Homo sapiens: one gene and its partner. The gene in region 1 interacts genetically with each later gene. Each region holds a gene or a part of one and is shown on either strand. Other genes may lie near its edges. The genes, in order: ARL5A and TRAPPC10.

Region 1 (3,386 bases):
TAATGCCAGGGACCTATTTGAATTAGGAAAGAGACAAAATGGTGTGATTCGTGCTTCATTACATCATGGTTTGTTGAGGGTTAGGTGAATATCTTCCATTTCAAGACTTTTTATTTAGGCCAGGCGCGGTGGCTCACACCTGTAATCCCACCACTTTAGGAGGTTGAGGCGGGCAGATTACGAGGTCAGGAGATTGAGACCATCCTGGCTAACACGGTGAAACCCCATCTCTACTAAAAATACAAAACATTAGCCGGGCGTAGTGGCAGGCGCCTGCAGTCCCAGCTACTTGTGAGGCTGAGGCAGGACAACCGGCGTGAACCCAGGAGGCAGAGGTTGCAGTGAGCCGAGATCGCGCCACTGCACTCCAGCCTGGACGACAAAGTGAGACTCTGTCTAAAAAAAAAAAAAAAAAAAAAAAAAAGACTTTGTATTCAAATAAAGCACAAATTGTGACAGAAATCCTCTAGGCTGTGTCATCAGTTAAGACAAGCCATACGATACCATAGAAAATACATATAATTTATTAGATGGGCTTAAAATCAACACAAATCCATTTTTAGGCACTTCTTGAGTACAGACTATGGGAATTTTCTACCAAAGAACAGGATATCTAGCAAGCAACAGCATAAAGATTTAAACTTTAGTTTTCAGAACAATACACAAGGGCTAGACATTGATAAGAAATACTGCATAACTAATCCAAGTGTATCCTGGAACATTTCTTCACAATCTGACAGGACTTTAGGGTTAACTAGAAAGTTACTTTTTAGCATCCAAAATTGTAATTTCTGGCTTTCTTTCCTTTTTACTCTATTATCATGGTCTTAAAATAATCTATCGCACATTCTTTGAGGGAGCATGATATACAAGTTTTATTTTTGTGTAAGTGGAGCTTCAAAGACATATTTCTCTATCTGCATTTACAGTCAATGCATGACAAGTGATTATTTCGATGTCTTTAAAGCCCATTTCAACAGGTTTATTTTTTAAGGATAGGCTTTTCATTACTAACTCCTTTAGACATCTAATGTTTATCTCTGTTTTGTAAGTAAACATGAAAAAAAAAATGGGATGTGGGCAATAGTTTCAAGAATGCCCTTAGATTATAGACTACATATAAATTTGGTTTGGCATCTTTTTCCAAATCAAACTGAACTGGTATTCTGTGAAACATAACCATTCTTGGTAGTGGGAAGATAATACACATAAAACTTAATCCTGCCCATGCCTAACTAGTAGCTCACGGAAGTGGTAGAGTCTGGGTATTTCTCCTATCTTTCTGAATCTACTTCCCAACATGTGAAGTTAAATTAAGAAGCATGAAAATGTTAAATATAATTTAAAGAATTCTAATATTGGCATCTATATGCTATACACACTGCAAGCTGGTCTTCTGATGGACTCCACATCTCTGATAATGCTCTCTAATGAGCAAAGTCCAAATCACTACCTCAAGCCAGTGGTGAGAAGATAGCAAGGAACTAGAAAAGCTACATAGAAACCACTGGTTTGGAAACCATTGTCTATAACAATAGTTACAAAGAAAGTTTAGAATAACCTCCAGGACAGAGATCTCTTCACTAATAGTAAATGAAGATACAGGAGAGCAAAGGATACCTGAGCTATGGGGAAGCTGACCTTGAAAGCAATGAGGTCCAGATTACATTTGGAGAGTGGGAGAGGTCAAAGTTACGAGGAGAAACTTGTCTCTACCCAGCCTTGAAAAAGTGATTGATGACAACATACAACTGGGCAGTTGAGAGAAGACTGGAGTTTGGAGATAACCGATGATGTGGTATTATCTCCTGTATACAAAGCAGAGCCTATTACACGTACATTCCCAAAAATGCCTCCAGAGAAAACTAGAAAGTTGTCTATAGATTTTCTATTTACACTAATATAAACAGGTTTGGAGGTTGTCTGTACTGTATGTGGTTGCTGTAGTGACAAGAAATGTAAAGTGCCTATACAAGAGGGAACAATAGAGTCCTATTTCTAGGCATCTTAATACTATATGCTGAGACAAAAAGGAAAACAATGTCAGGGACTTCATGCCTTTGCTCAAGCTCTGTGCATTTCTCTGGGTCTCAAATGACCTACTAGGCACTTTTTAAAGGCCAGAAAATAAAAACTCTTCTTCCCTCTATTTCATCCCATGCTTCTAAAGTCACTTTCACTGCCTATATTAAAAATGCCAGCCATCAGTGCTAAAGCACTTTTATATTCTTAAGGCAAAATGTCACATAAGAAAATGAATCCCCTATCCACTTCCCCACTATAACCCCTATACAACCTGCCTTCGTTGTATCCTTTGCCCATTATGAGGACCAAGAGGTACTGGGAAGATAAAGAGAACTGAAAATTTCAAACAAGAACCCTCTATATAATGTGTAAGATGTACTTTTACAGATGCTATTATGATAAAATTAAACATATTCAAATGCTTATAGCATATGGTTACTTTTGCCCAGATATCAAAAGAAGTTACATGACTTTCAAAATTAGTATCAAAAACAGGATATTTAAATCCAGCCACATGTACAGAACTATGAATCTTTGTTCTTCTCAGAGCTGAACACAATGACTCCACGAGATGTTTTCACTCAGAAGTGGCATATTAAAAACCCAAAAGCATCTCCCTCTGCTTAATTCCACTTAAACTACATAAAAATTGCCAATATGACTTTTCACCAGCTTCTCCATTTTATTTGAAAATAATACTTTTAAAATGATTTTGACATTTTCATATATAAATTTATTTTTTTCCCAACTATAATTTTGGTTTTATGTACAAGTACACAAGTACCACCTTATTTTTAATGTTTACCTTGAAGGGTAGAAAACAAAATCATGTTTTATAAATGTGGTATAAAATTACACATCTTCTCATGATGTCATGTCAATAATCCACTACACTAAACCAACTGTAACAAGGTAGTACATGCTTTAAACATCCAATTAAGAATAAATCTGAGCCAACACCTTGATGATGACAAGGGAATGTGCTGATATCGTGTTAAACTGATGTGGCAGTAATCCAAGGGACTAAGCACATGATTATTCAAATTAAAACATAAAAAGGACAAAAGGTGTGGATTTTCTGGGCTACATCACATAATATTTGTCTGGCGAAACCATAATACAGATTTGGGTAAAGGAGATTTTTAATAGATAACAAGTAATTCTTTATAGGGATTTGAGAAAGTACGAGAACATATGGGAAAAGCTTAGTAATTTAAGATTTACTTTTGTAAAACCATGTGGACAAATATTAAATGTTATGCTTGCATTTTGAACATTATAAATATAAAACATAAAACATCCAATGTTAAATACTGATATCCCATGCCTGACCTGGATTTAGATATTGAGTATTTCCCATT
Region 2 (3,823 bases), on another chromosome or scaffold:
CCATGCAATCAACAGTGCGTTCAAACAGAAGCTTGGATCTGCACACGTCTACGCATAGAGTGGGACCAGTTTCAGATTTAATTCTTCTAAAAAGAAGAATTCATCCATCCAGCCACCCGCTTACTCAGGAGCAAGCCTCGATCCAGCCTCAGGGCAGCCGGAGGAGCTGCACAGGAGCCTTTACTCATCAGCAGTGCAGCTGTTCTATCTAAAGGCTCAGTCGCAACACATACTACATCATTTCCGTACACTCTGGTTCTCTGTTGAGAAGTTTATGCTCAGGTCTACACAATGTTTACCTGCTGGGACTGCGTGTTCAGTGGTACTAGTTGCAGGTCGGTACTATCACCGGTATCTACAAGATAACTATCTGACAGCTGAAAGTCAAGTTCTGACAAATTCTGGACACAAACTTGAACATATTTCCTAAAGTGGAAAAACAAAAAGTATTATTTTGATATGTAAGAACTTTATTAAATATATCTTAGCTTTGTTAAGGAGACCCTCTCTGCCTGGGGAATCAAAAAAGCAACAAAGCAAAGTAAGCTAAGTTGTTGCATAAGTTTCCCTTCAGATTTCACACCGAAAAGTGCCAGAAAATAAACCTTTTTGGCCGGGCACGGTGGCTCACGCCTGTAATCCCAGCACTTTGGGAGGCCGAGGTGGGCAGATTATGAGGTCAGGAGATTGAGACCATCCTGGCCAACATGGTGAAACCCCATCTCTACTAAAAATATAAAAATTAGCCAGACGTGGTGGCACGTGTCTGTAATCCCAGCTGCTCGGGAGGCTGAGGCACGAGCATTGCTTGAACCTGGGAGGTGGAGGTTGCAGTGAGCTGAGATCACGCCACTGCACTCCAGCCTGGTGACAGGGCGAGACTCCATCTCAAAAAAATAACAAATAAAAATAAATAAAAAAAGTTTTTAAAGAGGCAAGTTCTGTGAGGCAATGGAAGAAAGAATATAGTTTCTGACCAGCCTTATTAAGTGATCATGGCTGGTCACCCTCACTGGCCTTTGGGGAGCCACGGGGAGACAGCAGCAGCCCTCCTCATTACAGGTGAAGACTCTCCATTGAGAGATGATAGGCGGGGCTTATATCCATTTCCATTACATGCAAAACTTTGAAAATATTAATAATAGTTACTATTTTTTGAGACAGAGTCTTGCTCTTGTCGCCCAGGCTGGGGTGCAATGGCACGATCTCAGCTCACTGCAACCTCTGCCTCCCAGGTTCAAGTGATTCTCCTGCCTCAGCCTCCCGAGTAGCTGGGATTACAGGCGCCCGCCACCATGCCCGGCTAATTTTTGTATTTTTAGTAGAGACGGGGTTTCACTATGTTGGTCAGGCTGGTCTTGAACTCCCGACCTCGTGATCCGCCTGCCTCGGCCTCCCAAAGTGCTGGGATTACAGGCATGAGCCACCACGCCCGGCTGAAAAATAATTTTTTAATAAGGTTCTTTTAGAGATTATTGATGTTTTTAACTATTAATATCTACAGTTCCCTTTGCTGTGATTTGAAGGGGAAAAAAGCTGCTAGTATAATGTTCCATTCTAAACATGGGTCTGACGTTTTTGTTTCCAAATTATCCACACATCATCAATGGATAAAAAGTTGTGGTGAGAGGCCAGGCTAGCATCCCGAGCCCATTGATCAACGCTAGCACCGTCACTAAGGTAGGACACCTGGACACCGTGGGCCTCCCGGTGCAGTCAACAGGAAGCACACAGCCCCGCCTGCCTCAAAGCAGAACTGGAGTCTACTCAAGCCTTTAGGGCAGCTGTTTTCCACTGGGGCACGTCCGCCCCACCCAGAGGACACTGGGCAGTGTCTACAGACATCTGTGGCTGCCACACCTGCAGGTGGGGAGTGCTACTGGCATCTCATGGGAGAGCCTGGGGTGCTGCTCAACACCCTACAGCACACAGGAAAGCCCCTACAACAGAGTTATCTAGCCCAAAATGTCACTAATGCTGAGCTTAAAAGCTCCTGTTCTAGAGGTTGCAGGCAATTGACAAGAAATACAGGGACAGGAGAACTAGTTAACAAATCCAGCCAGATCCAGAAAGGCGGGCGTCCAGAGGAAACCTGGCCTGCAAGTGAACAAGTCGATGGCTTGAAAACAGGGAAGAAAGGATGAACAGAGATCTAGTGGTCTGATGGAGATTTTGGACCCCAAGTCACACAAAGCAACCATAAAAGGTCATTTTCAGACAGTTGGGAAAACCTGAATATGAACTGGATGTCACAGGACACCAGGGAATTGTGGATTTTAAGACACAAACAATGGCCTTGTGGTCACATAAGAAGACATCCTTGGTCACCACGAAGGCCAGTTTTGAACATTAGGAACCTCCACTTAGAAGAGTCTGGGGAAAGAAGCCAGGGCCCGCACGCTACGCCTCCGTTACCGTGTTCCTGAGGACAGGAGGCTGTGTGTGGTCCTGAAGGGTACGCTGAAGGTCAGTGCGATGACTGTGGAGTAGATGGACCACGGGCAGTCAATCGACACCTGAGGAGGAAGCACAAAGACACTCTCAGACCACTCGCCGACGGACAGCACAGCCACCACCACTGCTGCCCAGACTCACCTGCAGTGCCCGCCCACGCCCTAGACATTTTATTATGGCTTCAACCACTCATTATCCAGGAAGCAAAGCCTTACCCAACACATACACAAACCAACGAGAAACAGGAAGCTATGCATACAGACAAGAGAAACGAACGCAGAACTGGCAAGACATGCACACATCACCAGAGTCACCTCAACGGCGGAAGAGCACAGCCGTCCTCTAAGCAGCAGACCCACCTGCTGCTCCCATACACGCAGGGCCGCGGAGCCATGCATGTTGCAATGTGCACAGGGTTTTGACAAAGTGCTTTCAGTCATGTATTTCCAGATGACATTAGCCAATCAGTAACTACTCCATAGTTAATGAATTATCTAAGCATTTAATCCATGTGAGGCTGAATATGTAACTGAAAACCAAATCAGTTTAGGGGCACAGTGAGGACAAAGCTATTACATCCCTTAAGGGCAGGAAGGAAGCAAGTCTCAAGCCTTATTCCCCACAGGGAAGAGGTGAATACCCCAGCACACAGCGTGCGTGCCGCCAGTGCCAGGGAAGAGAGGATAACACGGCACATAGCACAGGTGCCACCAGCGCCAGGGAAGAGAGGATAACACAGCACACAGCACAGGTGCCACCAGCGCCAGGGAAGAGAGGATAACACGGCACATAGCACAGGTGCCACCAGCGCCAGGGAAGAGAGGATAACACGGCACATAGCACAGGTGCCACCAGCGCCAGGGAAGAGCGGGGTAACACGGCACACAGCACAGGTGCCGCCAGTGCCAGGGAAAAGAGGATAACACGGCACACAGCACAGGTGCCGCCAGCGCCAGAGAAGAGTGGGATAACACGGCACACAGCACAGGTGCCGCCAGCGCCAGGGAAGAGAGGATAACACGGCACATAGCACAGGTGCCGCCAGTGTCAGGGAAGAGTGGGATAACATGGCACACAGCACAGGTGCCGCCAGCGCCAGGGAAGAGTGGGATAACACGGCACACAGCACAGGTGCCACCAGCGCCAGGGAAGAGCGGGATAACACGGCACATAGCACAGGTGCCACCAGTGCTGCGCGCTCCTGCTGAGCTAAGCGCCACCTTCGTGAATGGTGAACGTCTGTGTGAGTTAAGGGAAAGACACTTCCTCAGGTTCTTCAAAAGCTGAACATTACAACATTCGTCTTCAGGCGTGGACTTGTCTGGTGACTCCGTGCTTTGGAAAGACGGCATGCCTTGCCCTTTGCCCC

What was found.
Region 2: changes in ARL5A (region 1) and TRAPPC10 together harm fitness more than expected from each alone (negative genetic interaction), as found in Homo sapiens cells (one large-scale study listed by BioGRID).

What each region holds. Positions count from the first base shown.
Region 1 is NC_000002.12:151,798,296-151,801,681, forward strand, and holds the end of ARL5A (ADP-ribosylation factor-like protein 5A), read right to left. Parts: 3' UTR 502-3,386; downstream 1-501. UniProt on the Homo sapiens protein: Lacks ADP-ribosylation enhancing activity.
Region 2 is NC_000021.9:44,088,526-44,092,348, reverse strand, and holds part of TRAPPC10 (trafficking protein particle complex subunit 10), read right to left. Parts: intron 2,517-3,823; coding exon 2,416-2,516; intron 427-2,415; coding exon 300-426; intron 1-299. UniProt on the Homo sapiens protein: Specific subunit of the TRAPP (transport protein particle) II complex, a highly conserved vesicle tethering complex that functions in late Golgi trafficking as a membrane tether.